Homo sapiens: one gene and its partners. Changing the gene in region 4 together with the main gene of any one other region gives a genetic interaction. Each region holds a gene or a part of one and is shown on either strand. Other genes may lie near its edges. The genes, in order: ATM, CHEK1, KIT and SMO.

The links.
Region 1: changes in SMO (region 4) and ATM together harm fitness more than expected from each alone (negative genetic interaction), as found in Homo sapiens cells (one large-scale study listed by BioGRID).
Region 2: changes in SMO (region 4) and CHEK1 together harm fitness more than expected from each alone (negative genetic interaction), as found in Homo sapiens cells (one large-scale study listed by BioGRID).
Region 3: changes in SMO (region 4) and KIT together harm fitness less than expected from each alone (positive genetic interaction), as found in Homo sapiens cells (one large-scale study listed by BioGRID).

The regions. Positions count from the first base shown.
Region 1 is NC_000011.10:108,250,514-108,254,066, reverse strand, and holds part of ATM (serine-protein kinase ATM), read right to left. Parts: intron 3,367-3,553; coding exon 2,995-3,366; intron 2,231-2,994; coding exon 2,036-2,230; intron 1,251-2,035; coding exon 1,155-1,250; intron 254-1,154; coding exon 28-253; intron 1-27.
Region 2 is NC_000011.10:125,629,494-125,637,813, reverse strand, and holds part of CHEK1 (serine/threonine-protein kinase Chk1), read right to left. Parts: intron 4,652-8,320; coding exon 4,463-4,651; intron 2,386-4,462; coding exon 2,281-2,385; intron 366-2,280; coding exon 270-365; intron 1-269. UniProt on the Homo sapiens protein: Serine/threonine-protein kinase which is required for checkpoint-mediated cell cycle arrest and activation of DNA repair in response to the presence of DNA damage or unreplicated DNA.
Region 3 is NC_000004.12:54,732,284-54,740,603, reverse strand, and holds part of KIT (mast/stem cell growth factor receptor Kit isoform 1 precursor), read right to left. Parts: intron 7,535-8,320; coding exon 7,412-7,534; intron 4,107-7,411; coding exon 3,995-4,106; intron 3,884-3,994; coding exon 3,784-3,883; intron 3,430-3,783; coding exon 3,324-3,429; intron 2,176-3,323; coding exon 2,047-2,175; 3' UTR 1-2,046. UniProt on the Homo sapiens protein: Tyrosine-protein kinase that acts as a cell-surface receptor for the cytokine KITLG/SCF and plays an essential role in the regulation of cell survival and proliferation, hematopoiesis, stem cell maintenance, gametogenesis, mast cell development, migration and function, and in melanogenesis.
Region 4 is NC_000007.14:129,192,573-129,200,892, reverse strand, and holds part of SMO (protein smoothened precursor), read right to left. Parts: intron 1-8,320. UniProt on the Homo sapiens protein: G protein-coupled receptor which associates with the patched protein (PTCH) to transduce hedgehog protein signaling. Binding of sonic hedgehog (SHH) to its receptor patched prevents inhibition of smoothened (SMO) by patched.

The DNA of each region.
Region 1 (3,553 bases), on a different chromosome or scaffold from region 4:
CTTAGTTCTTTTTTTAAAAAATCTCACCTCAGATGAGTAATTATTCAGAAGCTGTTCTGATAATCCCAGAAGACAGCGATCCAGTGATTCCTTGAGATTCTGGTGGACAGAGAAGCCAATACTGGACTGGTGCTTTTCTATACCACATTCTCTCACAATGGTTAAAAAGTCCATCTTGTCAAAAGTTGTCTGAAGAAATAGTTCTTCTACTTCTGAGAATGAAAGTTCTTCTTTATCTTTTTGGTGGTGTTCACTTCAAGAAAGTAAGATCTTTAATATATAAACCAAGTACCTAATGCTTTGCCTTATATGTATTAGCAATATATTACAAAGGAAAACATTAACCTAGTATCTACATCATTCAAAGACTACTTATATAATTAATAGATTATTCTTTTAAATGCTTCTCTTCTTCGGACTTTGAGACCTACTTATATCAAATGTCATTATTCAGTAGCAAATTTTACTAATAGATAGAGAAAAAATACAAGTTACAATCTCAAAGGCAAATTCAGAAAGTATTTTTAAAAACACCAGATATAAATGTTAAGCATAACATTGTCTGCAAACATATCCCTTTTTTCACCAAGCAGAGGAAGTAAAGAGCATAGGTTTAAAAACCTTTAACATCTGGTATAGGTAAGCAGTTACGCATCCTTTTGCCCTCTTGAGGGAGATAAGGAATGTTTGTGCCAGTGAGTCATTTTCAGTCACAGCAATACAATCTAAGTCTCTTGAGTCAATCAACTAAACTCAGGTTTAGATTTATTTTTGTTTTCAATTATCATTAGTTTTTAAAGCTAACAAATAGTCAAATCATAGTTGATGTACAGAAATGGGTAACATCTTTAAGAACTTATTTCATATAAATTTTATATTCTTAATTTCCCAGCATAACCATTCAGTTTTTCTCATTGGCACTTGTCACATATTATACTATACAGCATTAAAAAATAGTAAGCTTGGTCTAATGTTATATAACATAGATTACAATCACTGAATTAAAACAACCTCTTCCCTGGCTAACAGTTGCAATTTTTTTGGACCAATTTAGTTTACAATTATTAAGATGCAGCTACTACCCAGCTAAAATTATCATCTTTGTAATTAAAGCTATAGCTTAAAATGATAAAGAGCATTATTAGATAACATACCATTCTGGCACGCTTTGGAAAAAATTCATTGCAGCTTTACAGTTTTTCATAGTGAGACTCACAAGAATTTTCTCCAGTACAAGATGAGGAAAATTACTACAAAGAAAAACAAAAAGCTTCACTTAGAAGACCAAAAGCCATGTAAAGAATACTTTAAACTTTAACATCCATGTTTAGCTATAAATCTTGACTTCTAAAATTTGGATCCTAGATTAAAATTGCTTTCATCTATACTAAATTTCTTAATATCTAAAAGGACAATTTAAGGAGGACAACCATTGTTATTATCATTTCCAATACTGTTTAGAAACAGCATGTTTAACATTATTTCTGAAATAAATAAAAGGTTGTAAAATTAAAGCAAAAGTACTTTAATTGGATCCATTCGGAGGTCTGCTCTCCAATCATTTGGTTCCAATTACCAATCTGTGGAAAGGTTAAGTGGACGAGGGACTCCATTCCTTTATCCTAGTGCTTACATCCTGTTTTGTCTTCCTCGTTTCCTCACCTCATTCATAAAACATCTTTTACCCAAAAGACACTCCCATTATGAGAAAGGATCCAGGATCTACATGACTCAAATATATGGACTTACTTATTTAAAAAATCAGAAAGGAACACATAAATGCTCAAAGAATTATATGTGCATTTTTCATGCACATCCCCCATATTCTCACAGTGAGACAACCCTTTATTTCAGAAGCAATCAGGCATAAAGACACAGATAACTGTAAAAACAAACATAATATTTAATAATTAAGGTTAGATCTGGGAAATTCTGCATTATTATTATAAAATAAAGCCATCTGGCATCAAATAAGTGGAGAGAGCCTGATAAAACAAACAAAAAAAACAGCAGCATGCTAATGAACTTAAATTACCTGTGAAGAATTGGAGGCACTTCTGTGCTATTTTCTAAGTCACCCTCTAACTGATAGAATAAGAGCCATTTCATTATTGATTCCTTTAAAGAAAAGCTTCTATTTACTTCACACATATTTTGCTCTATTCCCATTTTTACCGTTCCTGGAACTATACTGGTGGTCAGTGCCAAAGTCAAACAGCATACTGCAGGACTATAACAAAACAAAGGACAATTGTGAAAAGCAAGCTATTGGAGGGGCAAAGACTTTATCTATCAGGACAGTGCCTGGCACATACATTTAGTTAAGGTGACTAAATGAACATAAAAACTGTTAAAAGTCTGATTACATTTGGGAAGATTCTTGATTAAAAAATAGCTCGTTTATTAACAGTGCATAGTACTACAATTTAAACATGGCTATTTAATAAATAATGATAAATTGCACATAAAAGAAATTTAAACTCTTCATAATTCTTTAAAGAAAGTCTTTTGGATACACGTATACAATTAGAAGGAATAAGACCTGGTGTCCGATACATCAGTAGGGTGACTACGGTTAACATTAATCTATTGTACATTTCCAAACAGCAAGAAGAGAATAATTCAAACGTTCCTAGCATGAAGAAAAGATACGTAGGGTGCTGATATCCCATCACCCTACATGAGTGTGTCATATGAGTGTGTCAAATTATCACATGTACCTTGATAATATATAACTCTATTATAGATCAATTAAAAATTTTTTAACTAAAAAAGAAATTCCTTAACATTAGTCTTTAATAATTTGTCAACATTTGAAACTAAATTCACTTATGCATTTATTAAGTCTTCTCGGCCAAACAAGAAAAGCATCTGAAATAGAATTTGACATCTTTAACTGAAGTAACAAACTATGAAAATGATCAGGGATATGTGAGTGTGTGTGTGTCTGTGTGTGTTTATCTGTAAGTCAGACATAATGCATGCTGAACTTACCATGAAGGTCTGCAGGCTGACCCAGTAAATAACTTCCAGAATTCTCTGTCAACCTCAACTAAACTACCCTGAATTATGGCTCCAAGTAAGCCAAAGTTTTCAGCTTGTATTTGCTCAGAACTTATACCACGAAAGGTAATACACCAAATTTTATTCCAGAGTTTTAATAAATCTGACTTTTGTGAGCTTTCTAGGTTTGACCTCTTGTCTTGACACAATGCAACTTCCGTAAGGCATCGTAACACATATGGTGTACGTTCCCCATGTCGCTGTTGGGGTAGAAGCTGAGATAGTATCATCAGTAATGGAGACAGCTCACAGTTAGGTAAACTTGCAGGATACTTTGATATTAATTGGGTTGCAATCTGTAGCCTAAAAAAAAAAAAAAAGGATAATTTGAAAACTATTCCATCACATTAACAAACTAAAAGGAAATATATAGACATGGTACTCTTACAATATCCTAATTAGAGAATCACCATCATTTCCATAGTACTCTAAAAATAAACTGGCTGTTAATAGTTACTATGTCCTACTTCCTAAATTGGCAGGAAAATTG
Region 2 (8,320 bases), on a different chromosome or scaffold from region 4:
TTCAAATCTTAGATTTAATGTAATTTCTTCAGGAAGAAAAGTCTTCCCTGTCCCTTAGACTTGGTCAAACACTTAGCTATAGTACCCTGACTTTCCCCTTTATAATTATTAATAAACAAAATTATTTCTGTATTTTTTTCTACTGGACATTATAATCTCCATGAGGACAGAGATCATAGCTATCATGTGTTGTTGACTTGTGATAATAACTTTGCAATTACCTTTTCTTCCACAGAAAAACAAACAAACTTGTAGTTTAAGGATATTACCTTTCTTGAGGGGTTTGTTGTACCATCTATCTTTTTTGATGTCTGGAATGGTAATTCTTGCTGATGGATTCTCAACTAAGATTTTATGCAGCAGAGCTAAAAACAAACATTACGACAACATTCACGAAAGAATCATGTTAGAGAAGCCTATGGCTTGAGGTAAGAAACACATTTTCTGTTAGCCTACTTATGTCTAAATATTATTCCTGGGGAAGAGAAAGAATTAAAGCTACTAAATTACTGCTTTAATTTCATGCAGTTTTTCTCTGCTGCTGTATCTTGGAGTAGTCTTCCCTGATCTGATTCTCAATTGTTTGCAACTGAGAACAAGAGCCAGATGGAAATGTTTCTCCTCATGTGACGAGATTAACAAAAAGATACAGAAACCCCTCTTATCCATTTTCAATACCGAATTTCATTACTTCAATGTCATGTTCTCACGTGACCTCCTTATTCACACAGTTTTATAATGAACATTTACTTACCAATAACTTTTTAAGAGACAGTAATCTAACTAACCATCCTAAGGTATCTTAATTTTCTTGAGAAAAAATTCACGTATCTTCCTATGTGAAGATTATTTCCTAATGGACCAAAGATTTAAATGGAAAAATGAAGCCATAAAAACACTAAATGAAAACATAGGGAACTTTTAAATAGTAGAGGTAGAAGACCTTTCCAAAGAAATTATAGTCAGGGACCACAAAGGACAAGATAATAGATTTGAATGTCAATATAGCAAAACAAAATGAAAATAAATGATAAATTGTGAAAAGTATTTGTAACAAGTGCAAAGGTCAATGTGTTATCAAGGAAAAAAAAAAGCTTCAAAGTGGTAAGAAAAACAATATCCTTGACAAAAATGAGCAAAATAGACAAAAAACTAATACATACATAAAGGGTATACAACTTCATTAGTATTAAATTTAAAATAAAAATGAAAAACTATTATTTAAAGTTTTTTTCCTTAATGTAAATTGATGAGACTGTGATGAAATGGTTCGAACTTTCGGGAAGCAATTTGACAAAATAAGCCATAATAATAAAAACTACATCCTTGATCCTGCAATTTTGCTTCTGGGGATTTCAATGAACAATTTAAGGGTATGTGTCATGATTAAGTTACACAGATACTTATATCTCTTTTGTATCTGTGAAAATTTAGAAAAATCTCCAACAAAGTGATTAAAAGAGTAAAGTAAGGCATATCCACATGGCAGAATATTATCACAGCCTTTAAACCAACGATGTAGACCTACAATTATAGTCATGGAAGAATGTTCGCTGCGCACTAAAACCAAAAACAGTTACAAAATATTATTAGTGTGATCTCATTTTGTATAAAAACACATATAAATAATATACATATATTCATTTTACATACTTATGGGCCACATTAATGATGTTTCAGTCAGGAATGGACCACACGTATAACAGACAGTCCCATTAGATTATAATACTGTATTTTTACTATACTTTTTCTATACTTAGATACACAAATACCATTATGTTACAATTCCTTACAGTGCTCAGTATAGTAACATGCTGTACAGGTTTGCAGCCTGAGATCAATAGGGTATACCAAATAGCCTAGATTTATAGTAAGCTATACTATCTAGATTTATGTAAATATACTCTATGATGTTCACACAATGATGAAACCACCTAATGAAACATTTGTTAGAGTGCATCCCTATAATTAAGCAACAAACGAGTGTATTTGCAACAAAGTATAGCACATATGAAAACTTTAAGTAAAAAGCCATCTAAGAGCAGATTCAAGTTGCTCTGAATATACACTCCCCAAAATATTTTTAAAAATCTATTGCAGAGTTCTGGGACTAAAGAGTTATTTTTTCCTTAATTTTTTACTTATAGTTACTATTTTATCTACAACGAACATGAATTATTTGTAAGTTTAAAACAAAAAAAAAAGTAAGAAAAAATTCAAATAGCACAAGACTTCATATCCAAGAAATCGGTACTCTTTCACTCAAGATAATTCAGTTACCTAGAGGAGCAGAATCGATTTTTTTCCAAGGGTTGAGGTATGTTTTTTTTTCTTTCCAGTCAGAATACTCCTGACAGCTGTCACTGGGTTGGTCCCATGGCAATTCTAAAAACAAAGCAAGTCCCAGTTTTTTTAAATGTTCTTATTATAAAGATTTCAAGGAAAAATAATAATATAAATCCATGAAAAGTTTCCTTTGAATTAATTCAATATGGTTTTCACACTAAGAATCCCAACTTGGAAACTTTAGAGGCACTTCAAAGATAGATGAATCAGGATAGGCATGGCAGCTCAGGCCTGTAATCACAGCACTTTGGGAGGCTGAGGCAGAAGGACTGCTTGAGCCCAGGAGTTCAAGACCAGCCTGGGCAACATAGTGAGACCCCATCTCTACAAAAAATAAATAAAATTAGCTGGGCGTGATGGTGTGCATCTGTAGTCCTGGCTCCTCAGGAGGCTAAAGTGAGAGGATCACTTGAACCCAAGAGGTCAAGACTGCAGTGAGCCAAGATCACACTGCTGCACTGCAGCCTGGGCGACAGAGCAAGACTTTGTCTCAAAAAAAAAAAAACCAAAAAACAGATGAATCATTTCTTGCCCTAGTCTTGTTTTCACAAATGTTTACATGATACACAGGAGAGATAAGTGTTGTGATATTTAATAACTATGCATGCCTTAGCTTAAAAAATCTTTGGGATTATAAATAAGTTACTATTTGCAATGTGCTAAATATTTGTATCCCCCTCAAAAGTCATGTTGATATCCTAACTCATAATGCAATGGCATTCGGAGGTGGGGCCTTTGAGACGTAATTAGGTCCTGGTGATGGGACCACTCAAAAAATGGTATTAGTGCTCTTATTAAGAGCTTATTAATGTCTAATAAGGGCTTGTGTGCCCGGACAATATTGTATCTTTATAGGGCACTAATTATATAATCCCAGCACTTTGGGAGGCTTAGGTAGGCAGATTACTTGAGCCCAGGAGTTTAAGACCAGCCTACGTAACATGGAGAGACCGTCTGTGAAAAAAAACCCACAACAAATTAGCCAGGTGTGGTGGTGCACGCCTGTAGACCCAGATACTGAGGAGACTGAGGCAGGAGGATCGCTTGAGCCTGGGAGCTCAAGGCTGCAGTGAGCCTTGAATTGTGCCACTGCACTCCAGCCTGGGCAATAGAGTGAGACCCTGTCTCAAAAAAAACCACAAAAAAACAAAAAACAGACACAATATCTCACAACATCTGGTCATTTAACAAAAAACCCAAAAAACAGCACTTTGGGAGGCTGAGGTTGGGGGATCACTTGAGGTCAGGAGTTTGAGACCAGTCTGGCCAACATGGTGAAACCCTGTCTCTACTCAAAATACAAAAATTAGCCGGGTGTGATGATGCATGCCTGTAATCCCAGCTACTTGGGAGCCTGGGACAGAATTGCTAGAACCTGGGAGGCAGAGGTTGCAGTGAGCTGAGATCACATCACTGTACTCCAGCGTGGGTGACAGAGCAAGACTCTGGTCTAAAAAAAAAAAAAAAAACCACAATAGAGCTTGCTTCTGCTCTCTTGGCTGTCCACCATGAGAGAGCACAGCAAGACAGCCATCTGCAAATCAGGAAGAGGGCCCTCACTAAAACATGACCAGGTTGGCACCCCTAATCTCATATTTTCAGCCTCCAGAACTGTGAGAAATAAATTTGCTGTTTATAAGCTATGCAGTCTATGATACTTTGTTACAGCAGTTACCAAACCGATCAAGACACTATTAAAATACTACTATAAAAGCTGGGTACCATGGCTCATGTCTTTACTTTAATCCTAACAGTTTGGAGACCAAGACAGAAGGCTTGCTTGAGACCAGGTGTTTAAGACCAGCCTGGACAACACAGCAAGATCCCATCTCTACAATGAATTTTTAAAACTTAGCCAGATGTCTTGTGGCAGGCACCACTGGTCCTAGCTACTTGGAAGAGTGAGGCCAGAGGATTGCTTGAGCCTAGAAGTTTGAGGCTGCAGTGAGCTATAACAGCTCACTGTACTCCAGTCTGGCCAAGAGTGAGACCCTGTCTCTTAAAAAAGAAAACAAAAACTATTATATAAACATGAATTCCTTGGTTTATTTCATTTATTTCAGTATAACTAATCTGACTTTTTATAGGAGTTTTACCATGATTAAATAGCTCTTACCTCCAGCGAGCATTGCAGTAAGTACTATTCCACAGGACCAAACATCAACTGGTTCTGCATGAAATTCTCTTCTCTTCAGAAGTTCTGGAGCAACATATGGTAAAGTACCACACATCTTGTTCAACAAACGCTCACGATTATTATACCGAAATACTGTTGCCAAGCCAAAGTCTGAGATTTTGAGGTTATCTAAACCAAAAGAAAAAAAGATGACACTGAATAAAAATGTTTTGCAAATAGATATACTTACAGGAATTAAGTTTTACTGAAAAAAAATCACTGGTGTTACTTAAGGTTTGTAGAACTTCTCTTAAAATAAGCAAAATAGACAAAAAGAAATTTAAAAAAATAAAATAAATCATCATCTATGCTAAAAGTAGAAAAAGGCCTCACCTCTTCTATTAACTTAAAAGAAGTATTATCAACACACAGAACAGTCTGGACCAGATTAAAGAAAGAGGCTGGAGTCAGAAGGGGCTGCCCTTCTGGAAAAGAGCACTCTAAACCTGAGATGAAAGTAAAGCAAGGCCCCTCATCAGGTAGGGTGGAGGGCAGGAAGGAAACATCAGTAGTATGTTAGGCACAACTTTCTCAGCAGCAAACAAACCCAGTTGGCAGAAGAAAATATGTGAAGACACACCAAAATTCAACAAACCACAGTAATTTTTTTCTTCAAAGTAGAGAGTCTGAGAAAAAGAGGACAAACTCTGTACAAAAAAAAAATATCAGAAGACCCAACTTCCACCCTAACTTCCCATCTTCAACACACAAAAACTGCAGGCAGGACTTAACTTATGTTTAGTGAATATCTACTGTAACTTAGTGACAGACACTATGCCAGCCAATGCAGGTAATAGATAAATTAGTGAAGACTGACAATAGAAAACTGTTATGAAGGTTATAAAAATATAGAGCACTATAGGATCTTAGAGCAAAGGAATGTAACCCAGTCTTAAGAGTTAGAAAAGGCCCTCTATTATCAGAGGGCAATTTGGCAAAACATACTAAACTGTGAAACATTCACTCTTTGAACTAGCAATTCCCACTTCTATATCCATAGAAATAATCCCACAAATTCATAAACATAAGAATATTCATAGCAATATTATTTGTAAATAAATGTCCAAATTTGTACAATGGAAAATGTGGAGGTAGGTTTTGAAAACAATCAACAAGGTATATCTATACATACTAACATGAAATAGTGTGTAAGTGGGACAAAAAGGCTAATGGCATAAAAAATATTATAGCATAAAAAATATTATAGCATGACGCAATTTTTATATTGGCCTTTTACACAAATTGATAGAAGCCATCACTGTCCTATTTTATAAGTTAGAAACAACTTAAATGTCTCAAAATAGGGGACTGATTTCTTTAAAAATCAAGTACATTCACACAATATGTAAACCAATGAAATGTTTACCTCTATCTGACTTAGGAGGTAGCTACTGTGATTACCCTTTTTTTTTTTTTTTTTTTTTTTTTTTGAGAAAGTGTCTCACTCTGCTGCCCAGACTAGAGTGTAGTGATGTGATCACAGCTTACTGCAGCCTTGACCTCCTAGGCTGAAGTGATCAATCCTCCTGCTTCAGCCTTCCAAGTAGCTGGGACTCCAGGTGTGCACCACCATGTCTAGCTAATTTTTTTTTTTAATTTTTCATAAAGACAGGGTCTATGTTGTCTAGGCTGGTCTCAAACTCCTAGAATCACTCAATCGTCCCACCTCAGCCTCTGGGATTACAGGCATGAGCTACTGCACCCAGTTGATTATCTTTTCAGTAGTTAAATATGACACTATTGGACAAACCACTGAGATTGAGTTTCAAATTACTTATGAGTAGTAATCACTTAAAATACTAATGGATAACTATAGTATTCCTTGGACTTTGTTATGTCTGCAACATAATACTCAGCTATGTTAGAGAACTGCACATAATAAAATTTAAATGTAGGAATGTGTTTAGCTCTTAGAAAAACAAAGGAAGAATATATTTGTGATGAAATAAACAGGAGGACATTAAATACTGGTAACATTTTATTTCTTTTTTTAAAAGACTCCTAAATATTAAATAGAAACAAAGAATTATATCTTGTATATTAATACAAGATATAAAGAATAACAATGTAATAAACACCCACTCACTTTAGAAAAACAATGCTCTATTTCCTTTGAAATCTTTAAATACTTCCTTAAATACATTCCCTCCCCTACTTTCTTAGACCATTCTGAATTTGGTTTTATTATACCCTTGCTTTTCTGCATGTTTTTTTCTCCATGTTTACATACTTGAACAATATACTAGGTTTTACATATTTTTGAACTTTGTATAAACAGAATCAGACCATATGAATTCTTTTGCAACTGTCTCTTTTTGCTCTACATCATTATATACCTGAAATTCATCCATGTCACTGCTTGTGACATGCTTGTGTCACTGCTTGTGACATGGCTTGAAAAGCCATGCATTTCATAATTTATTGTTGACAGACATTTGGGTTAGTTTCCTGCTATATTAAAAACATCACCACTGTGAGCATTCTTATATACGAATAATGTTGTATTTTTAAACCAGGTGGGTTGATATACATATATTTACATTTCATTATAATACATAAGAATTTTTGTGTACCTGAATTTTTAAAGTTTTAAATAAAAATAAAGATTTTTATGTCATATAAACTCAGTTTAAAGGGGTAAAAAGTAAAATCCATATGCACATAAGAAAAAAGCATGTATAGGCTGGGTACAGCGGCTCACACCTATAATCCCAGCACTCTGGGAGGCCAAGGGAGGCAGATCACTTGAGGCCAGGAGCTCGAGACCAGCCTGGCCAATATGACAAAACCCCATCTCTACTAAAAATATAAAAATGAGCCAGGTGTGGTGACTCAGGCTTGTAATCCCAGCTACTCAGGGGCCTAAGGCACAAGAATCACCTGAACCAGAGAGGTAGAGGTTACAGTGAGCCGAGATCATGTCACTACACTCCAGCCTGGGCAACACAGCAAGACTCTGTTTCAAAAAAAAAAAAAAGCTGACCATTTGTTAAGCACTATTCTAATACTAAGAATAAAGCATTAAACCAGACAAAAACTACTGCCTCATACAGCTGACATTTCTTTTTTGATTCTGACCCTGTAAGCTTAAAGCTTTCGCTATCCATCCTTCTCAATTTGATGACATTCAGAAAATATAACTAAATTTCTTACATTTTTATCCACGTCATACATAAAAAAAGAGTGAACAGGACAAGACTAAGGTCCAGGGTATTCCACAGGAACTTCCCTTTATTAATCCATTAAAGGATTATTTTAAACTATTCTTGGCCAGGCATGGTGGCTCACGTCTATAATCCCAACACTCTGGGAGGCTAAGGCTGGTAAACTGCTTGAGTCCAGGAGTTCAAGACTAGCCTGAGCAACACAGGAAGACTCCACCTCTTCAAAAAATCAAAAATTAGCCAGGCATGGTGGCACCTGCCTGTGGTTGGTCCTAGCTACTCGGGAAGCTGAGATGGTAGGATTGCTTGAGCCTAGGAGGTCAAGGCTGCAGTGAACTGTGATAATACAGTGCACCCCAGACTGGACAACACAGTGAGCCTGTATCAAAAAAAAAAAAATTATTCTTATACATATAGTGAGCTAGGCTTGCACCTAGGTCAGATTTCTCTACCTGATCCGCACTTGTATTGCAAAATGAGACTTGTGATTTCCAAATATACGAAGTCTCCAAAATTTCCTTGATTTTTCAGATCTTGTCTTGAAATTCCAGTAATGCAAAAAGACTTGATTTTGCCTTGTATGGCTATATTAAAATAATTAGGTAATTAAAATAATTTAGGTAATTATTTTATT
Region 3 (8,320 bases), on a different chromosome or scaffold from region 4:
GTATTTACACATAAAGTTACTGTATATATAAAAAATATTTTCAAGGACTCATGGGCTTGGGAATATTCAAAAGACATTATTGCTACATTTCAATATTTACAAAAAAAGCCACAAAATAATTTCAAACATTAAGCCACTGCAAAGAAACATCTGATGTAAGAAAAAATTATAAAAATATAAACTTTCAAGAATATCCAAGACAAAACTCTCAATGAAGTGCCCCTGAAGTACCTAGACATCTATAACTAACAACCACTTTTCTTACTATCATTGAAGTCAATAGAAACACAAAGGAATTTTTCAGACAAAGTATGGCAAACAACAATCTCTTGGGTGACAACACAACCCCAAAATCTGTTAACTTTGGAAAGGTGCGAGAGCATAGAACTCCAGTGCAAATGGTTACTTCCAGATAACGGCCACAGTTCTCTAAATGTAGTCTAAGAAATGTAGAAGGGGGAAACCATAAAGGCAACATACCTGAATCTTTCAAGACAACACACAAACTCTGCCATGTACACATTTGCCTTTTATATTGGGCAGTGAGGAAGGGGAGTTTTTTGTTTTGTTTTGTTTTGTTTTTAAAGAGGTAAACTACAAGAATAATATCCAGGCTACAGTCTAAAGGGTAAAATTTAAATGTTTCAGTGAGACAGTAGCATTATGGAAGGTCTAAGGAACAGGTACAGTAAGATGAGTCTAAATAACAGAGTGCCTTAAGTGCAGGTGAACTGCAAATACATAGGGACTGATGCCTTCCACTTCCTCTGCACCACTATGGAAGCTTCTGGTAAGCTACTCTAGACAGCTATGTGAAAAGAAACAAGAGCAGTACTAATAATGAAAGCCAAGTTACTTTTCAGGTACTAAAGGACCCTCTTGGACTCAGGGCAAAAATACCCCTCCAAATATTTGTCTACACACATACAAACGTACATACACATATATAGATACTGGCCCGGTGTCCAGGACATGCCTGCGAAGGAGGCTAAACCTATACTTTATTTCCTGCTACATAAGAATCCAAACTAAGATGGCAGTGTTTTCCCACTCCTGTGGGAGCCATGCAGTGAATCAGTAACTTTGTCAAACAGCATCAAATCCATTGAGTACAATGCCATTCTGAAGCTGATAGGCTTGTTCCACAGAATCTACAGAATAAGTTCATCAGCTAAAAGAGGAGATTTTGTTCAAACTGTGCTTTGTGGTTATATTGTTTCCTTAAAAAATGGTATTAACTGTTTCCTTCAAACTTATATGGCTCTTAATCTACTTCTATACACAGTGGACATAATGCCAGGGTTGTATACAGAAACGAAACCTTATGGTGTTTTCCCCTCAAATGTATGAACACGGACAATTTATAGATGCGTATATACAAGTGCTGGCTAGGGAGGCCTTCTCTCCAATTCAATGCTCTAATAGCAAACTCTATTTAAAAACCAGGTCGGTAGTATAAAAGCTCATGCAGTGGTCCACAGAAGAGCATCTTTTGTTCACACTTGGGGATCATTTTTTTCATGGCCTATGTCTCATTCCCAGCATGAAATACTAGATTTCTTAAGCCCAGGTGTTCATACTCTGTCCTTTGTTCTAATGATGTTCTGTTTTCCACATAAAGGACTTAGGTTTTCAGCTTCTAATCTTGTATCATCATACTACTATGGATGGTTCTGAAGGCCAACTGTGATTACTACCATTTATTCAGGTAAACTATCAACCATATTTTTGGGCAGAATTGGAGAAGCCTTGGAAAGGACTCTGGCCCCCAGTCCATACCTCCCTCTCTTTTTCCAAATCAGAATGTTTTCTGTTCATGGTAGAAGCTACGTTGCTATTGGGAATATATACAGTTGGAACCTTTGCAATAGGATGGTGGCTGATGACAAAAATCATCGGCCACTAAAGTGTGCTCAGAAAGACAGGATTGCAGTGGGGTGCCCACTATCCTGGAGTTGGATGCAAGTTGAAAGAAAAGAAAATAACCATCATGGAAGCCAAAAGAAGAGATCATTCCTGGAGGGGTGACCCAAACACTGATTCTGCTCAGACATCGTCGTGCACAAGCAGAGGCTGGGAGGAGGAAGCGGTGCTGCCGACAGAATTGATCCGCACAGAATGGTCTACCACGGGCTTCTGTCGGTTGGGGCTGCAGTTTGCTAAGTTGGAGTAAATCTGGAGAAAACAAGCCCATAGTCAATACAGCAGTCCCTACAACGAACATAGCAACAAAAGGCATACTTACAGTGTCAAGATCACAACTAACTGATGGAAACTCTTAAGAGAGAAGTGGTTTCCAAGAACTTTGTGGCCAAAACCCAAGTCATACTGACAAAACAAATATAAGCTTTGTTTTCCCCCTTCATTTTTCCAAGGAAATAACTTTATACAAGAAGTGGGGACAAAACATGCACAAGCTTAGCTCTTCTAAAAGGGCACACCAGGCACCAAGCACTATCTTACCTATTTAAAAGGCTTGTAAATCTCTCCAGCAACTACAACCCAATAACCAATGTAATTTGCTGGGAAACCCACGGCCCTTCCAGGGGTCTCTTGTCAAGAATCAAAGCAACTGGGTGGAAAATGCTGTTCAATTTGAAACATGTTTTGACACCCAGAAGAACAAGCTTTAACCCAAAAATTATCAGTGGTGTGCTATTAGGAAAGAAAAGATAGCTCCAAGCACACAGCCCAGGAAAGAAAGCAGCTTAAAAAAATCTGAGTCAAAGTATCACTAATTCTTGCTTAAAAAGAGAGGAAATAATGGATTTGAGTTTTCATTCCCCCACACTTCCCAAATCACTGGGAGGGATCTCCCAACTTCAAACAGCTCTTCATTCTATATGGCTTGTGGGCATGACAGCTATCTGCCATTTTCTGGCTATGCTTGTTTGATCAGAAGGCTTATTTCACTGCAGTAACAAGCTGTCTTTTCTATGCTTTTATTCTAGTTCACATCACCCCAACCCTCCAAAGGATGCATGGCCCTGACATGTGAGAGGGAGAAAATACTGACCCCGTGACCAGCATTTGAGATGAGGGAGGAAACATGGCAAATCCTTATGGAAACTTCTACTTCCAGTGAGTACAAAACTCTCCACCCTTCCCCCTCAATCTCACATCCTTCTTTGGCTCAGAACAGGAGGGCTGGGCAGAAAGAACTAGTTTCCATTGCTTTACTTCCCCTACCTGAAGCCCAATTTGCAACCTAAGATTAGGAGAGAAGGGGTTGGGAGGTTAGTCCTCACCCTGAAAGCCTGAGGAGGAGGACACACCTGGAACTGGGAGAAGGGGGATTCTATGCCTGGCCAGGGTATACTCACATGATTGGTGCTCTCTGAAATCTGCTTCTCAATTAGCTGAACAATTTGCTTGAATGTTGGTCTTTTTAGGGGATCTGCATCCCAGCAAGTCTTCATTATGTCATACCTGCAAGACAAGGGCCATTTACTATCCCTCCTCAATGCCCTCAGCTTGTTTTCAAATGTATGGGCATCCAGCAACTTCAGTAATAATTCCAGGGCTATGCAACTGGACATATGGACTGACATATAGATAACATAAAACACTGCATGTATGAAATATTACTGAAACTTTCTGTATTTTTGGTGACAAGAGATTATGAAAATAAACTACAGAAATGACATTTGACCAGTGTGTCATAAAGAATCCAAGTGACATTTCAAACTGTGTTATGAAAACCCTCAACATCTGGGTTTCTGTCTCTAAAAAGAAAAATAAAAGGGAAAACGTGACCTAAAGGAAAAATTTTTTGGCTCTTACATTTCAGCAGGTGCGTGTTCAGGGCTGAGCATCCGGAAGCCTTCCTTGATCATCTTGTAGAACTTAGAATCGACCGGCATTCCAGGATAGGGGCTGCTTCCTGAGACACAGTTTGCAAAGCAGTGTTAATCACAAGGAAGCAGGACACCAATGAAACTTCAAGAAGATGCTCTGAGTCTAATGAAGTTGTCTTTGGCAAGGATCATTTTACCTAAAGAGAACAGCTCCCAAAGAAAAATCCCATAGGACCAGACGTCACTTTCAAACGTGTATACACAGTTGAAAATGCTTTCAGGTGCCATCCACTTCACAGGTAGTCGAGCCTGTAATAGAAGCACAACAGAGTCAATAATGTTAATTCAGAAGCTCAACAAAATTGAACAGAAGATATTCTTATAGATGCTGCTGTTGCTGAAATGTGGAGTGATAACTTGAGTACCATCTCACAAAAACCTTTTACCTATATGAACTCAGATGATCCCAATCACCTCTGAAATACATGGCTCACAAGTGCATTATCCCCATTTTAAGATGTGAGCACTATGTCAGTACGGCATGGAGATTAAGAGCACAAACGTCAGAGACAGCCAGACATTTTAGCCCTGGCTCCACCATGGGCCTTAGGTAATGCAGAGATTTGTTAGTTTCCACTGAATATGTCCCTCTCCTTCCTTAAAAACAGAAACACGGCCTCTCACAATTAGGACTACATTTCCCAGCCTCCTTTGCAGCTAGCTAGCTGTAGTTAGGTGACTCGGTTTTGGCCACTAAGTTGTAAGTGCTGTATAGCAGCTTCAGGAAAACCTCCTTACAATATAGCTGGCACGTGCCCTCTGCCCTCTCTTCTCTAGTGCAAGGGCCCCCTGCCTTCTGGATATGATGGCTGGCTATCCACCTGGTGGTCATCTTGGACCATGGACATGGGGGTTACACTCAGGAATGGCTAAGCATGGAAAGGAAAGACTTGCCCGGGTACTCCATGGAACCTTTATACCAATCCTGGTATAAAGTCTACTCCTAGACTTCTTTTATTTTGGGTTTTCTGTCAAAACCCAAAACTTTCTCTAATACACTGGGAAAGTCACTAAAATATTTGTAATTAAGCCTCAGTATCTTCTTCTGTAAAACAAAATGAATACTTTTAATTTTATGAATTGTCTTGTGGGTTAAATAAGATAAAATGGGTAAAAATGCTTAGCACCGCCTGACTCAGTGCTATCTGAAAAATTGCCTAGAAGAAAGGCAAGTACTTGATAAACAGTAGTGGCTTGTGATCCTGACTCTTTGGAGAACTCTCTCCATTAAAGTTGAGCTAAACTTTCTGTAACTAGTCCTTTTAGATGCATTCTGGATTCCCAATCTTAATCTGCCATAAAAAGCTAAATCAATCCTTCTCTTAATCCATTTAGGATTGAAAACTGGGAAAGCTTTTTTTTTTTTTCTTTTTTTTTTTTGGTGTTAAAGTTATTTTAGTCAGCTTACAAAAACAAAACAAAAAACTTCCAATATCCCTTCCCTTCCTAGATGTTGTGCTAAAGTTCCTATAAGGGCTCCTAACCTGAGATCTATGGGTGTCAAATTCAGGGGCCTGTGAACTTGGAAAGGAAAAATGACATCCTTATTTTCGCTAATTTCTAGATGAAATTTAGCATTTCTTTAAATTACTAACAAAGGTGATAAAACGCAGTAGTATCAGCTGTACCTGTGACTTTGTCATGAACAGTAATCATAAATATCTTCATATCCTATTAAGTCTTTATAGGTATCTCAAAATCATATTTACATTAATCACCACTCTAAAATTACAGTGGTTTTTAGAAAAAATAGCAAAACCCACAATTACTTTTACACCAACCTAACAGAGCCTGTTACACTCTATAGTAAACACATGTACTGACATATCACAAATTTACTTAGTATCTTCATAGCTATTTCGATTTAACTGTTTTCCTTGGTATTCCTATGTATTTCATCATAGGCGTTGAAAACAGTGTTCTGATAAGGGTCCCATAGGCTTTACCAGGCTCTAAAAGGGGCCATGACATGAAAAACAATGAAGAACTCATGTGAAAGGAAAGAACTTCAGAGAACCTGACACAACAAGGAGATCTCAAATGATGATGACAAAAATGTGGGGCGGTAACATATATGAGTTTCCTTCTTCTTATCTTGTTCCAGAAATTCTCCTTACCCACTAGCCTGGTGAAAGCGAGATCTGTGATTGGTTAGTTCAACTGACTTGAACTGGAGTCTACAATCTGGAAGCCTGATAGAGCCAACCCCTCTTTGTCATTTCAAACTAAGGTCACTAACCAATAACAAGACAGTATGTAACCACCGTCACGATTATTTAGATCGTAAATAAGACATCTATAAAGAATAGTAACAATATGTCTGGCACTGTCATAAGCACTTTACATATATTAACTCATAACTTTCTGAGTCAGGAATCACTATTATTCCCAAGGGGAGAAAAACAAAGATTCAGAGGTATTGGACAACTCTTGACAAAATTACACAGGCATGAAATAATGGAGACAGATTGCAGAATTCATCAAGACTGGGCCTGGAGGCGGCCACCTTCTTCCTCCTCCCTTTGGTCAATATTCAGAGGACTGGATAATTAACGACTTATCATTCTTCCTTCCAAAATTGCACCAGGATGAAGAGAAGTTGTTTTTATTATCACTCCTGATGATAATATCTAGCTTCAGGGCAGCCTTTTCAGAAATTCATGCTTTGGCCAGGAGATAAACACAGAAACACTCTTACAAAACCAAATCGAGTACAGGCTACCAATAGAGACGCCACAGTGATGGGGGGAAAACATTACATTATCATAAGGGGCACAAAAATCCACCTCCAGGAATAAATCTGGACTGCAGAAATGGGCCCAGGAAGACAGGCAGAGAATATTATAAAGGGCAATATGGTTTTCCATGGCGATGGGATGCCACTCTGGAAATCACAGGCTCTAGTTTCAGCCTCTATTGTCCTGTGTCACCTCAGATAAAAAGCACTAAAATATGCCATGCCTTAGTTTCTCCAACTTTTAAAATAGGAAGGTGCTGCAATTATAGGACAAGGGTTTGTTCTGAGGATTCAATAAAAATTGGCAAGGAAATACAGCACTTTGAAAAACATTTGCTATGTTCTACAAACCCATTATTACTTATGAACCTATTTAATAGCTCTCCGTGTATTCTAGGATCCAACATTCTATATGGCTAACTCTGAATATGATCTTAGATTTTAATATTTTTCACACGGCATGCCAATCCCCCCAAAATTTCTCCTGCTGTGACCTTCAATGACCTACATTTGTTACACTTGAGCAAAATCAAGTTCATTGCTATTCTCAGGCTATAATGAAAATTAAGGCTATTTCTGTTTCCTTCACATGCCCCAAAATTACACAATTAGAATTAGGACTTCTATTATTGAATGTTAGTTGTAGTAATGTTCAGCATACCATGCAAATTTTGCTGAAGTATACTTAATTTGACTGCTAAAATGTGTGATATCCCTAGACAGGATTTACATTATGAAAATCACAGGAAACAATTTTTATCGAAAGTTGAAACTAAAAATCCTTTGCAGGACTGTCAAGCAGAGAATGGGTACTCACGTTTCCTTTAACCACATAATTAGAATCATTCTTGATGTCTCTGGCTAGACCAAAATCACAAATCTTTGTGATCCGACCATGAGTAAGGAGGATATTTCTGGCTGCCAAGTCTCTGTGAATACACTATTAGGTTGGAGGAGAAAAGAAAACCATTTAAATTCATTTTAACTTGTAAAGAGTGAAAACTAACTTTTTAATACTATAGTGTTGCTTATATTATAAAAAATCCAATACTTTTGTTTTAAAGTATTCAGTACACCAAAAATAAAAATCAAAAGTACGCCTTGAATGATGTTCACATAATCAAGAGTCTAATTATTATAATCTCTTTTAAAAGCAATTCTAATAAATGCTGTTTTCTTCTCAGGACTGCTTTCATTCATAGGGAAATACATAAGAAATAGTCATATCATATTGTTTAAACTGAAAATTCATTTTGCATGCATCTCTTTGAATGTCCTTTCACAGAGTTCCTAATATGCCTTTGCAAATTCAATCTGACATCTCCCAAGGACACACGGAAGAAGGTCTTTATTTCAGCCATCTTATATCCTTTCTTAGTTTGGTAATTGTTGGGAAATGTCACCCATGACATTTAAGGGTAGGACTGGTAACTCATTCTGTTCGGTTAATCTTACTTCCTAAGGAACTCCTTTCACCCTTCCACAGACCATGCTCCTTGTTTTGGTTCCATCATTCTTTCCATTCCTAACCTTCTCCCAAGTGTTTATTACTCCCTCTGACCCCTTATTTCCTGACACTTCATAAGCCACACATATAATATTTGGATCTAACTTCAATAAAACTCAAGTCTATGCTTCACCCCAAGCCTTGTAACTATGAGGTGCCCTCTGCTTTTACTGATAAAATGATTCTGTTCTCTAGGAACATATCCTATATCCTAAAAGC
Region 4 (8,320 bases):
GTGGTGGTCCACGCCTGTAGTCCCAGCTACTTGGGAGGCTGAGGCAGAAGAATTGCTTGAACACAGGAGGTGGAGGTTGCAGTGAGTCAAGATCACGACAGTGTACTCCAGCCTGGGTGATACAGCAAGACTCATTAAAACAAACAAACAAACAACAACAAAAAAAAAACTGTAATTTTTCTCAATCTTTTTATATCTGTGGTAACAATCAGGTTTTAAAAATGTCTAATTTGTTTTCCTTTTTTTCCCTCATTGTGAATATTGTTTCATACCTTAAAAATAAAACTCCCCAGGAAAAAGAGAGATTATTAAATACATCTTCAAGGACAACTAAGAAATTATCTGGGGAAAAAATAAGGTGGAGCTTTACCCCATTTCTTACATAAAAGTCCAGATGGATAAAAAAATAACTACATTGTTTTTCTAAAAATTAAAGTTTTAGAAGAAAAGATGGGAAATGATTTTTTTTTTTGAGATGGAGTCTTGCTCTGTCGCCCAGGCTGGAGTGCAGTAATGTGATCTCGGCTCACTGCGAGCTCCGCCTCCTGGGTTCACGCCATTCTCCTGCCTCAGCCTCCCGAGTAGCTGGGATTACAGGCGCCCGCCACCACACCCGGCTAATTTTTTTTTTGTATTTTTAGTAGAGACGGGGGTTCACCGTGTTAGCCAGGATGGTCTCGATCTCCTGACCTCGTGATCCACCCGCCTCGGTCTCCCAAAGTGGGATTACGGCGTGAGCCACCACGCCTGGCCAGGAAATGATTTTTTAAACCTTGGAGTGGAGAAGGCCTTCTGAAATGACACAAAGCCTACACATCATGAAATAAAAGATTTAAACAAAAGACTTCAGAAAAATCGATACAAAAATCATAAGAAAAGTAAGATACTGAAAAAATGTATTTTCAATACTTATCACAAGAGCTAATTTCCTTATATGCACAAAGCTCCTCCAAATCAGTAAAAATTGCATAATTCTATAGACACACAGGCGAAAGACAAATAACAGATCACATTTTCAAATGTTTTGATCTTTATCACTGTGATAAAAAGTATAAAAGTTTAAAAAAAGAATATTTCGTTGTAGTTTATTCCACATTTGTATTATTAAGAGTGAGGTCGAACATCTCTTTATGTTTTTTTTATTTTTTTATTTTTTGAGATAGGGTCTCACACTGTTGCCCAGGCTGGAGTACAGTGGCATAATCACGGCTCACTGCAGCCTTCAGCTCCCCAGGTTCAGTTAATCCTCCCACCTCAACCTCCTGAGTAGCAAAGACTACAGGCTCACACCACCACACCTGGTGAATTTTTGTATTTTTCTGTAGAGACAAGGTTTCACCATGTTGCTCAGGCTGGTCTTGAACTCCTGGACTCAAGGCCATTTAATGGCCTTTAAAAACATAAAGAAGGCTGAGCATGGTGGTGGCTCACGCCTGTAATCCCAACAGTTTGGGAGGCCGAGGCAGGTGGACCACCTGAGGTCAGGAGTTCTACACAAGCCTGGCCAACATGGTGAAAACCCGTCTCTACTAAAAAACTACAAACATTAGCTAGGTGTGGTGGTGGGCGCCTGTAATCCCAGCTTCTTGGGAGGCTGAGGCAGGAGAATTGCTTGAATCCAGGAGGCGGATGTTGCAGTGAGCCGAGATCGCCATTGCACTCCAGTCTGGGTGACAGAACAAAACTCTATCTCAAAAAAAAAAAAAAAAAGAAAAGAAAATACCGTACTATAAAGAGTGTAGGGATAAACTGGCACTTTTATATTTGTTGGTAGGAATAAAAATTAGTAAACACTTGTGGAGATCACTTTGGCATTATCTACCAAAATTTTATACTAGTACTTCTACTTCACATGTTCACAAAGATAATATAGATTATTCATTGCAGCACTGTTTTGCAATAGCAAAAAAGTAGAAACAGCTTGAATCCATATCCATCAATAGGAGACCAACCAAGTAAAATAATGTACACCATTATAATAGAACACTATTCAGGGTTGAGATATAGTCACATGTTGCTTAACAATGAGGATATCTTCTGTGAAATGTGTCATCAGGCAATGTCATCTTTGTGTGAACATCAGAGTGTACTTACACAAACCTGGATGGTATAGCCTACTGCACACCTAGCTGATACAGTATAACCTATGGCTTCTAGGCTGCAAACCTGTACAGCATGTTGCTATACTGAATACTGCAGGCAACTGTAACACAACGGTGAGTATCAGTGTATCTAAACATATCTAAACATTGAAAGGCTACAGTAAAAATGTGGTATTATAATCTTAAGGGAACACCATCACATGTGGTCCATTGTTAACCAAAATCTCCTTCTGGGGTGCATGACAGGATGTGCATTGAAATGGAATGATGTCCAATGTTGTCATGTTACATGGACTCAGTTGAGTGGAGAGCAGTCTATAGAGCATGGTACTGGTTGGGCGGTAGAGGAGAGACTGAGAGCACATCTACATCTGGACAGATGTTGGATATTTCCAAAAGGACACAAAAACCAGTGTTGGTGGTTACTTCTGCAGAGGAAAAATGGGTAGCTAGATGCAGAAGTAGGACTTAACTTGTTCCTTTTGAATTCTGTGCCATGTACATGTATAACCTATTTTTTAAAAGTAATTAAGCTTAAGGCTGGACATGGTGGCTCACGCCTATAATCCTAGCATTTTGGGAGGCCCAAGGTGGGTGGATCACTTAAGTTCAGGAGTTCGAGACCAACCTGGGCAATATGGCCAAACCCCATCTCTACAAAAAAACAAAAACAAAAACAAAAACAAAACTTGAGCTTAAAAACAAAATAAAGAAATACACAAATTACTAGGATGGGGAAGCTTTCCAAAGAGAAAAGAAGGATATGAAACTGAAACGAGAAAGAGAGGGGATATCAGCTTTATCAGTATTATTTTACTTCTTTTATTTTAATAAAATATGAAACAAAAAGAGAAACAGGAATACGGGTGTTACCGCGCCTGGCTGATCTAGACTTTTAAAAAGACTTTTTATTTGTGTGATTCTGATGACTAGTCAAGTTGAGTATCACTGTTCTAAGGCTGGTTTAATATTAGAAAATTCAATCAATGCAATTTACTACATTAACAGGTTAAAGGAGAAAAAAATCATATGATCATCTCAATGGATGCAAAAAAAAGTTGATAAAATTCAGCCGGGCGCAGTGGCTCACACCTGTAATCCTAGCACTTTGGGAGGCTGAGGCGGGCGGATCACACGGTCAGGAAATTGACCTGGCTAACACGGTGAAACCCCGTCTCTACTAAAAATACAAAAAATTAGCCGGGCGTGGTGGCATGCGCCTGTAGTCCCAGATACTTGGGAGGCTGAGGCAGGAGAATCGCTTGAACCCAGGAGGCAGAGGTTGCAGTGAGCTGAGATCGCATCACTGCACTCCAGCCTCGGTGACAGTGACACTTCGTCTCCAAAAAAAAAAGTTGATAAAATTCAACATCCATCTATGATCAAAAGAATAATTGGCAAATTTGAAATAAGAGACAACGTTCTTAATCTGATAAAATGTAATTAACTATAAAAAACCTATACCAAACATCAAATTTAATGGTGAAGGGTAGAAAAAGCTTTCTTTTTAGAATCCAGAAAAGTCAAGAATTAAGATGTTTTGTCTATTTAACAATGTACTGGAAGCCTTCAGTAAAGCAATAAGGATAAATAAAAGGTATAAGACTTGGAAAGAAAGAAACAAAACTCATTACTCACAAATTATATGACTATGTGTATAGAATAAATTTAGCAAGTTTACTGAATTCACAATCAATTTTATTTCTATATATCAGCAACAAAGTGAAATAAATGTTAAAGGCATCAATTTTATTTCTTTTTTTTTTTTTTTTTTGAGACGGTGTCTCACTGTATTGCCCAGGCTGGAGTGCAGTGGCACAATCTGGGCTCATTGCAAGCTCCGCCTCCCAGGTTCACGCCATTCTCCTGCCTCAGCCTCCTGAGTAGCTGGGACTACAGGCGCCCGCCACCATGCCCGACTAACTTTTTGTATTTTTAGTAGAGATGGAGTTTCACCATGTTAGCCAGGACGGTCTCAATCTCCTGACCTCGTGATCCCCCTGCCTTGGCCTCCCGAAGTGCTGGGATTACAGGTGTGAGCCACCGTGCCCAGCCAGTTTTATTTCTATATGTCAGCAACAAACAAAGTGAAATAAATGTTAAAGGCATCATTTACAACAGCATCAAAAATATCAAGTACCTAGGAATGTCTAACAAATAATAAGTATTTAAATCTGTGCAGAATATTGAGAAAATGAAAGATCTAAATAGAAATATATAAATGTTCAATGTTTGGAAGACTCAGTATTGTAAAGATGTCTCTTTTTTTTTCCAAGTTAATCTATATAGTCAATGCAATCCCAATAAAAAATCACCAAGTATTTTTATATTAAAACACAAAGGAGCATTTTGGGAGGCCAAGGCAGGAGGATCACTTGAGCCCAGGAGTTCAAGACCAGCCGGGACAATAGGGTCAAACCCTGTCTCTATTAAAACACACACACACACACACACACACACACAATCAAGAATAGCTCAGACTCTCTACTAGATAGTGATATTCTGTAAGTAACATTCTTACCCTATGGTTCACAAAGGATTCTTGGAAAAATTCAGAGGTCCATGAATTTCAATGGGAAAAAAATTACACCTAACTAAAATTTGGCCCTTCCTCCAATTATGAATGTAAGCAACACATCGCAGTACATAATTTTTTTTTGTTTTTTTTTTCTTTTCTTTTTTTTTTTTTTGAGAGGGAGTCTCACTCTGTCACCCAGGCTGGAGTGCAGTGGCACGATCTCGGCTCACTGCAAGCTCCGCCTCCTGGGTTCACACCATTTTCCTGCCTCAGCCTCCCGAGTAGCTGGGACTACAGGCGCCCACCACCGCGCCCGGCTAATTTTTTGTATTTTTAGTAGAGATGGGGTTTCACCGTGTTAGCCAGGATGGTCTCGACTTCCTGACCTCGTGATCTGCCCACCTTGACCTCCCAAAGTGCTGGGATTACAGGTGTGAGCCACCACGCCTGGCCCACAGTACATAATGTTAATAGTACCTGTGGCGTTGTCACAAGTGGAAACCAGATATTTTTGTTGCAGATATCTTGAAATAATGTCAATGCTTATAATCACTTTGATATTATAGTTGTTATTACACCTGCACCAGATCTTATTTATTGTATAAATAAATAAGCCCACATACTTGCATTTTTATATTTGATAACTATTATGTCAATATAATTGATTTCCTTTGTAATCCTATAAACTCATATCTAGCATATATAAAGAACTCCTACAAATCTTACAAAAATGACAGATAGCCCCTATGGAAAAATATGTCAAAGATTTGAACAGACACTTCCCAAAAGCAGAAACCCTAAAGGCCAGTAAGCATTTAAAAAGGCATTTAACTTTACTAGTAATCAGGGAAGTGCAAATTAAAACCACAAATATATGCCACAATATAGCCACTAGATTGGCAAAAATGTAAAAGGCTGATAATACCAAATGTTGGGAATCATGTGAACCAGTGTTGACTTTCTACTAGCTAGTGGGAGTATAAGTTAGTACAACCACTTTGAAAAATGGTTTGGCAAAAGCCTAAAGTATGCGTGCCTTATTATCTAGCAATTCTACTTCTTCAGCATATACCTGAAGGAACTTGTGCCAGTTGTACTAGGATATACATAAAAGACTACTCACAGCAATGTTATTTGCAATGGGCAAAAACTTGAGATGACAATAAAATGGGTAAACAACTGGGGGTATACTCATATAATGGAATATTATTCAGCAATGAAGAAATAAGCTGCAGTATGAGGCGGGTGGCTCACCTGAAGTCAGGAGTTTGAGGCCAGCCTGACCAACATGGCAAAACCCTGTCTCTACTAAAAAATACAAAAATTAGCCAGGCCTGGTGGCGTGCACCTATGGTCCCAGCTACCTGGGAGGCGGAGGCAGGAGAATCGTTTGAACCCAGGAGGTGGAGGTGTAGTGAGCCGAGATCGCGCCACTGCACTCTAGCCTAGGTGACAGAGTGAGACTGTCTCAAAAAAACAAAAACAAACAAATAAACAAGCAAAAAAGAAATAAGCTGCAATAACATGGATGAATCTTACATAATGATATAAAGTAAAAGAAGCAAGAAATAATATGCACAGCATATTATTTTGTACAAATTCCATTTGAACAGAGTTCAAAAACATGCAAAGCTGAAATATACTGCTTATGGATTCCAAAACTAGGAGGTAAAACCATAGAGAAAAAAAGGATGTGATTACTGAAAACCTCTTGAGCAAGGGGAGGGGGATGTGACTAGACAAGACACAGAGGGAGCTTCAGGGGTCTGACTGTGGTCTAGTTATTGACCCAGATGTCACTTTATAATTATTTGTTATTCAGTACCTTTGTGTTTTATGCAGTTTTCTGCATACAGTTATATTTCACAATTAAAAAGTTAAAGATCTGAAGCAAAATTGAAGACTTGAGCTGGCACAGAACACATGCCTGTAGTGCCAGCTATTCCAGGCACCATAAGCACCATGCGCACAATGAGTGAGCCTCTGAATAGCCACTGCACTCCAGCCTGGGCAACACAGCAAGACCCCATTTCTCAAATAATTAATTAAAGATAATTTTTTTTTAAAAAAGACTTAGGTCCATGTATGTTTTTCTGTATTTTACATTTTCACTATACATATATGTGTGTGTGTGTATACATACACACATATCTATATGTATGTATGTATTTTTGAGACAGGGTCTTGCTCTGTTGCCCAGTCTGGAGGGCAGTGGTGTGAGGATGGCTCACTGCAGCCTCAACCTCTTGGGTTCAAGCGATCCTTTTGCCTCAGCCTCCAGTGTAGCTGGGACCACAGGTGTGTGCCAACATGCCCGGCTAATTTTTTTTTTTAGAGATGGGGTCTCACTTTGTTGCCCAGGCTGGTCTCGAACTCCTGGCTTCAAGAAATCCTCCTGCCTCAACCTCCCAAAGTGCTAAGATTACAGGTGTGAGCCACTGCACCCAGCCTATACATATATATATATATATATATATATATATATATTTTTTTTTTTTTTTTTTTTTTTTTTTTGAGATGGAGTCTCGGTCTGTCGCCCAGGCTGGAGTGCAGTGGCGTGATCTCGGCTTACTGCAAGCTCTGCCTCCCGGGTTCCCGCCATTCTCCTGCCTCAGCCTCCCAAGCAGCTGGGACTACAGGCACCCGCCACCATGCCCAACTAATTTTTTTGTATTTTTAGTAGAGACGGGGTTTCACCCTGTTTGCCGGGATGGTCTCGATCTCCTGACCTCGTGATCCGCCCACCTCGGCCTCCCAAAGTGCTGGGATTGCAGGCGTGAGCCACCGCGCCCGGCCATATATATCTTTTTAACTGACTCTGATTACCAGCCAAGTTTGGAAATAGCTCTAAGGAAATTCTTCCTGATCCGTCCCTGAAAATAACCCACCATCACCAAAAACATTCCTCCTCTCAGCCCTCAATTCAATGTGTGAGAGGCAAACAAGAAATTCCTCCCAGCCTTTGTCTCTCTCCTACTTACCTGCAAGTGGGCAAGGTGACAGGGCCACACACTTATGTACCACACAGAGCACAGCAGTGGTTAAGGAGGCTACGTGCTGGCTCTCAGGGACCTATCGCCACTGCCAGCTGCAGGCCTCTCTGCTTTTTTGCCCCACTTACTAAACCAGGTTTGGCCTAAGGTGGACCACGGCCTGGACATTATGTTTGTCTGGTCAGCTTGGAATGCCCGGGAGGAGGCATTTCCAGCTGTAAAGGGGAGAGATGCTAAGTGACTGAAGAAGCCTGAGGCCAGAGAGATGAAAGACAGAGGAAAGACCTGAGGTCTATACAGACCTAGAAATTGGACCAACCTGAGCTATAAACTTCCTCAGTCAATGGCATCCTTCCAAAGCCTCAGTAGTCAGGGCCAAGGAAGCACACAGTGGCCACCTCTCTCCAGCAATTCCTATTTCCAGATCTGCTGAGAATCTCCACATAGATGTCCAATGAGCATCTCTAATTCACACGGCCAAAATCAAAGCCACACCTCCTGCCTAAACTTCTTCTTCCTCTAGCATTCTCTATCTTAGTGAAAGGGAATGGCACCACCTTCCATCCAAGCCTGAAACCCGAGGCCTCCTGCTCACTGAGGCTCCACATCTAACTCATCAGTGCCCTATGAGCACTACCTCTGAAAGTTAGTGGGATCTGCCCACTCCCTCTGTCCTGCTACCCAGTCCCAACCGCCATCGTCTCTTA